Linked DNA regions of Homo sapiens: region 2 is reported to be linked to region 1. Evidence: microRNA targets listed by miRTarBase, many of them from high-throughput screens and not tested one by one. Region 1 holds a microRNA gene; the other region holds the end of a gene's coding sequence.

Region 1 (3,000 bases):
ACATTTTAGATAACAACAGGTGACACAGGTGGGCAGAGCATGTCATATCTCAGTACCATGAAATCAGACCTCCTCTTTTGAACAGACATCTCCCCTTATCACAGTGACTTCTCTCTCTTTTGCCTGCAGCCCAGCGATCTGCTCACGAGCTGCCCATGGTTGAAAGACAAGACACAGACAGCTGCCTGGTCTATGGCGGCCAGCAAATGATCCTCACGGGGCAGAACTTTACATCCGAGTCCAAAGTTGTGTTTACTGAGAAGACCACAGGTCAGTGGATTTTTGAGCTCTTTCTCTGTCCCCCAGAATCATGCAAAAGTGACCATCTCTTTATTATATACAACTTTGGTTTTGGGGGGTAGATCCCACCGTGCAGTTTTATACCCTGCTCTTTTTACTCAGCGTGTCTTCAGGGATTGTGATGGCCATACCATTCGCCATTGCATGAATGTGCCATTCTACATTTTAACTCTTCTAGGTCATTTTGACAGAAAATGAGATTATCTCCCACCCTCAATCCTTTTTTTAAAATTACTTTTTTACATAAGGAAGGAAATTTTTAAAACTTTTTGCTATTATCAAGAAGGGAGGCCAAACAGCACAGTGATAAAGCATGCATACTCTGGCCCTGGATATCTTGGGTTCAAATTCTGGGTTTGTTATCTGCTTGCTTGGTGATCCGAGGCATATTACCTATCCGTTAAAATTTCTTACCCCATAAAGTTGTCATGGAGGTTAAATGAGCTAATACATGTCACGTAATTATAATAGTGCCAAGTACAGCATAAGCCAATTAATATTGGCTACTTGTATTTTTATTATAAGTAGTTCTGCAGTGAATCAGCTTATACTTCTAGGATTAATTAATCTTGTACATGAATCTATATGTATATCTTTTTAGTTTATTTAGGGTTTATTCCCAGCAGTGGAATTTTGGATAGTCATTCTGAGGACTTTAAATACATATTGCTAAATTACCTTCCAGAAATCTACAAATTGAAGTTGCCATCATGTCAGTCATAGTTTCACCCCCATCCCAGAAATGCCATTTTTTTAAATTAAAAAGGAATCATTGTGGAATTGGTACTTCTTTCTACTTTGCATTTCCTTGCTCTGAGACGCATAATGTTTTGTTTATTCACCACGTGTATTCTTCCTTTGGTGTACTATCGGTGTCTTTTTCAGTGGGTATGTGGTAGAAAAGATGCTGATCTGAAGTAGGAAAATATCAGATTAAGCAATAATTAATGAAACAAATGTGTTGTTAGAAGGAAATTAGCTCAAATAACTTGGGACACTTATTTTGGATACTAGAACCAATTTTCCTTTTCCTTAACAGACATGATTTCAGTAGGTTACTTCAAAGGGGTGTTGATGTTTGTCTATTTGTTTATTGTCCTTAGAACAATCCGAGAATATAACAGGTGAGTTGTCCAGTTGGAGGGATTGTGCACTGTACAAGGGCACCTCCTCTGAGGGCTGCCATTCAAATTGGATACATCACCAGTTTACACGTTAGTAAGACAACTTCTGGCAGGGGGAAGCAGACTGTCTTAGGCAAAGAGTGCTTCTTCCAGTCTCGCACAAATCATCCTTCTGGGATGGGCTGGACATGTGACCGGGGTGTGACAACTGCATTCTCACAGTTGGAAGCATAACAAGAGGCAGAATTTATTTTAAAAGGGTTTGATGACGCCTTTGCGAAAAATAACAAAAAAGGTATTAAGTAAGGCTGTGGCAGTGGGGAAGGGAGATGCAGGGATGGGTCGGGAGTGGTTTAGAAGGCAGATGTCACTGAGGTTTGATGGGACGTAGTGGTGTAGAGAGGCATTAAGAACGCAGGTGGCAGGGCCAGCCACCAGGAGGGCTGCGTGCCACCCGGGCAGCTCTGCTGCTCACTGGCAGTGTCACCTGCGGAAACTCTCCATCATCTATCCCCTGAAAAGCAGGGACAGTGACAGTGCCTACCCACAAAGGTAAGGTCTGAATGAATTAGAGCAAGTGGGCTTAGCACCGGAAGTGCTCGGTAAGGGGCAGGGGCTGCTGCTGTTTTTCTGGAGCTGCTGTGGATGGGGAAGGGGAAGAGGTTGAGTGTCGAGATTGTTTTGTTCACGTGGTGCACTTGGCCAGCTGAGATTTAGCACACAGGAGAGGAGGTCTGTGTGGGGATGAGGTTGGGCAGGGAGGACGGGTTTCATTTTGGAAGTGGAAGCGTTGAGTCTCATGTACCCATGGGCCTTCTTGGATGAACCATGATCTCACCTCTGTGGAAAGGCAAGAGATTGGTGGGTATGTGGCCACGTGGTCTAGACTAAGAAACCAGATCCTGGCTGCAGATGTTGTCATGGGAGCTGTCAGCAATGAGATCTGAGGTGAAGTCCTGGGAATTGGCTCCGACCTCCCAGGATGGCCTCCAGTGGGAGAAGGGGAGGCTTAGAGAACTGAGAGCCACATCCCTTAAAGGTGGCAGAGGAGGAGCTGTCACAGCAGGAGGAGGAGAACCAGGGGAGTCTGGTGCCCTGGAGACCAGGGGAAGGAGACTTGGGAAGGGTCAGCAGAGGCAGTGCTATGAAGGTCACAGAGCCCGAGGTCAGCCTGAGAGTCCAGTGATTGGGGGGCCTCTGGTGATTTGAATCACACGTACCCAGGTGGCAGTGAGTTGAGGAGTGAGCTGAGGAGTAGCGTTGCTTGAGGGATCAGAGATGATGAAGGTAAAGTCTGCTCTAGGCAAGAAGACTCTGCACCAGCAGTCCCCAACCTTTTTGGCACCAGGGACCAGTTGCATGGAAGACAGTTCTTTTCAAGGGTTGGGGAGATGGGCTGATGGTTTCAGGATGATTCAAGCACATTACATTTATTGTGTACCTTATTTTTATGATTATTACATTGTAATATACAATAAAATAATTATACAACTCACCATCATGTAGAATCACTGGGAGCCCTGAGCTTGTTTTCCTGCAACTAGGTAGTCCCATCTGGGGGTTGACGGGAGACAGT
Region 2 (3,231 bases), not on the chromosome of region 1:
TTTTTTACATCTTCCTCAGCATTAACCTACAACATTTTAGGGAGTAGGAACTGTTGAACTATTTGTTGAGTAAAGAGTATATATTTCAAACACAGTTACGTTTTCTCTAACTTGATGAGGTCATATCACCAACCATTTTATCCCTTCAATGGAAACCATGTTATGTAGGCTATTGCTGATAATACATGGGTCGCTACCTGCTGAAAAAAAATATAATATTTCATGATATAAGCCTGCCCGTCTTTTTCTGTCTTCGCTCCATCTTGACCTTAAGATGTTCTTCAACCCATTTTATTTAAGCAAAGTACATGACTGTTAGACCTGCTAAAATAATATGTCACTGAAATCTGGCATTAAAAAATTTAATTGGGTATTTGGAGCTCCATGTATTGATTATAGTTTTTTCTATTTGAAATGAATAACTGGCATCCTTTGAATATTAAAAGCTGTTTCCTTTTGACATTTAATTAACCCTGTTTAAAATGCGAGATATAAAGTGGTGGTTTGTCAGTGAACTAGACTTTTTCTTTTAGGCTCTTGAGGACTTTGAAGACCTTTGTGACAGAGTTTTTTCCGATGAAGACAGTGAACTTGATAACTAGACATGTTTTTAAATAAAATCATGTCAGAACTGTAAGTAGTGCATATTTAATATTAAAAACTCAGGATTGATGTAGCACTGGAATATTTTATTTGCAGAAATGTGTATTACAGTTACTTAAATTTTTTTTTGAAACAGCTTTTGGAAAAGTTGGCACTTACCCAGTTGTCTCTTCAACCTCTGTTATTCTGATGACTGAAGAAAGAACTTGAACCTATGTTATATGATACAAGCACAACTTGAGCTACAGTAAACTACATGACAGTGTTTTGATAATTGTTGTATAAATCGGTATAGCTCCTCTGTCACTCGTCTGTTAAATGCCAGACCTCGTTTCTATGATCTGTTGAATGAATCCTAGACACTTCTGTGAGAAAGCAGGGATTGCATAGTTATGTACACGGTCAATTAAATTTTAACATTAAAGATAATTTAGATTTCGATTTGGCCTCTGTGGATTTGTATCAGTTCCAAAAATGTAGAAAGCACAGGCATAGAAAAGTACATTTTTCTCTAATAAAAGAAGACAATATCTGCTGGGTGTGGTGGCTCACGCCTGTAATCCCAGCACTTTGGGAGGCCGAGGGGAGTGGATCACTTGAGGTCAGGAGTTTGAGACCAGCCTGGCCAACATGGTGAAACCCCATCTCTGCTAAAAATACCAAAATTACCCGGGCGTGGTGGCACGCACGTGTAGTTCCAGCTACTCAGGAAGCTGAGGCAGGAGGATCTCTTGAACCCGGGAGTTGGAGGTTGCAGTAAGCCAAGATTGTGCCACTGCACTCCAGCCTGGGCGACAGAGCAAGACTCTTTCTCAGAAAACAAGAAGAAGAAGACAAAAGCTATCTTATCTGTGCGTTCTTTTGTATTTACTCATTAGGATAAAGAGGCAATTCCAATGAAAGTAGGACTTCAAAAAATAGATATACTCTATGGCCATATCAAAATTATTAAAAGCACCTTACTGTCTGTGTTCTTAAAAAAAATTATACTGCTGTAAATGATTAAGGCAACTGAGCAAGATATATTAATATCAGTGCTGAGCCACTGGTTTGTGGGTATGTCATTTCCACAGACATCAAAATGCTATTTAGTTTGTTTTGGTCCATCATTCAATGATACCTCCCCTTAGAATTGAATGAAAGCATTTTGTTAACATTTATGTATGCTTACAATTATTTCACATCTGTGGCAAGGTAAATTTTGTAGAGTGCTTTGTTTATCCAGTTTAATATTCGTGGATTATGTGGAAGTTTATATGGACATCTAAAAACTTGAATGATGAATTCGCCTGCCTTTCCTTTTTTTAATGTGCAGTTTTCACATGTAACAACATATAACAAACATGTAAAAAGATTTTTTGCATGTAACATGTTAAAAAGATGTACATGTTTTTACATGTAAAACAATTTTACATGTAACATGTAAAAAAAGAAATGTTCATTTGGAAACACTTTATTTAGTAAATATGAAATTCAGAATATATATGGAGTAAGTGAAGTAAATGTATTCTTTTGCCAAGTTTCTGAAATTCCATTCATGAATCCTTCAAAACACAGTACTCCCATTGGGAGGAGAGGAGTGACTTCCTCTCATTTTTCCTCGTGCTATTTATGTTAATTGGCCCCTGTATACCACTCACCTTTTCTGGGTTTTCCAAGTTTAAGAAAAAAAACAAGTTCATTCAGATTGTGTTTTTCTGCCTGCAGTCACGTATACAGCAATAAGTGAGTCCCTATGGGGAGCATTTAATTCCTAAAGTTTGCATTTTCATAAAGGATTTTCCTTTTACCCAAAGCGTGTGTTGGTACTACTAAGTACTATGAAGTACTACTTTAAGTTTCTAAAAAGATCCTTATTTGAGATCTCTTTCAGTAGTTACAGAGCCAAAATAAGCACTGCAGAGGTCCATGTCTGAGTTCTGTTGTACATCCTGGGTTATCTGACTACTATTTACTCTATAGTGGAAGGACAAGAAAGAGGCCACAGTGTACTTAATGATGGAACAGTTGATGTTTATGCCACCCCTTACTACCTCAAATGAGTAACTGTGTACTTGAAGTCATATTATTTTTAGAGACCAGGTGTCGCTCTGGCCCAGCCAGAATGCAGTGGTACGATCATAGCTCATTGCAACCTTGACCTCCTGGGCTCAAGCAATCCTCTCACCTGAGCCTTCAGAGTGGCTGGTACCACAGGTGTGTGCACCACATCCAACTTATTTATAATATATTATATATTATATATTATACATAATATATTATATATTATATATTATACATAATATATTATATATTATATATTATACATAATATAATATATATTATATATTATACATAATATAATATATATTATATCTTATACATAATATAATATATATTATATATTATACATAATATAATATATATTATATCTTATACATAATATAATATATATTATATCTTATACATAATATAATATATATTATATCTTATACATAATATAATATATATTATATCTTATACATAATATAATATATATTATATCTTATACATAATATAATATATATTATATCTTATACATAATATAATATATATTATATCTTATACATAATATAATATATATTATATCTTATACATAATATAATATAT

What was found. The annotated mature microRNA hsa-miR-3194-3p reads AGCUCUGCUGCUCACUGGCAGU and lies in region 1 at 1,885-1,906, shown strand. An mRNA with a match to its seed (bases 2 to 7 or 8) in the 3' UTR can be bound and repressed. Matches are read on the target gene's strand: a 7mer-m8 pairs with bases 2 to 8, a 7mer-A1 pairs with bases 2 to 7 and ends in A, and an 8mer does both.
Region 2: miRTarBase lists FAM9B as a target of hsa-miR-3194-3p. Seed matches in the 3' UTR shown: 7mer-A1 at 1,399-1,405.

What each region holds. Positions count from the first base shown.
Region 1 is chr20:51,451,818-51,454,817 of GRCh38, reverse strand. It overlaps MIR3194 (microRNA 3194), which reads left to right and starts at 1,841; the gene lies at 1,841-1,913. It overlaps NFATC2 (nuclear factor of activated T cells 2), which reads left to right. Exons shown (of 11, transcript NM_012340.5): 6 at 130-270.
Region 2 is chrX:9,022,886-9,026,116 of GRCh38, reverse strand. FAM9B (family with sequence similarity 9 member B) reads left to right here. Exons shown (of 9, transcript NM_205849.3): 8 at 534-633; 9 at 740-1,885. The coding sequence ends at 602. Among named protein-coding and RNA genes, the nearest start is that of FAM9B, 9.6 kb to the left of the region's middle.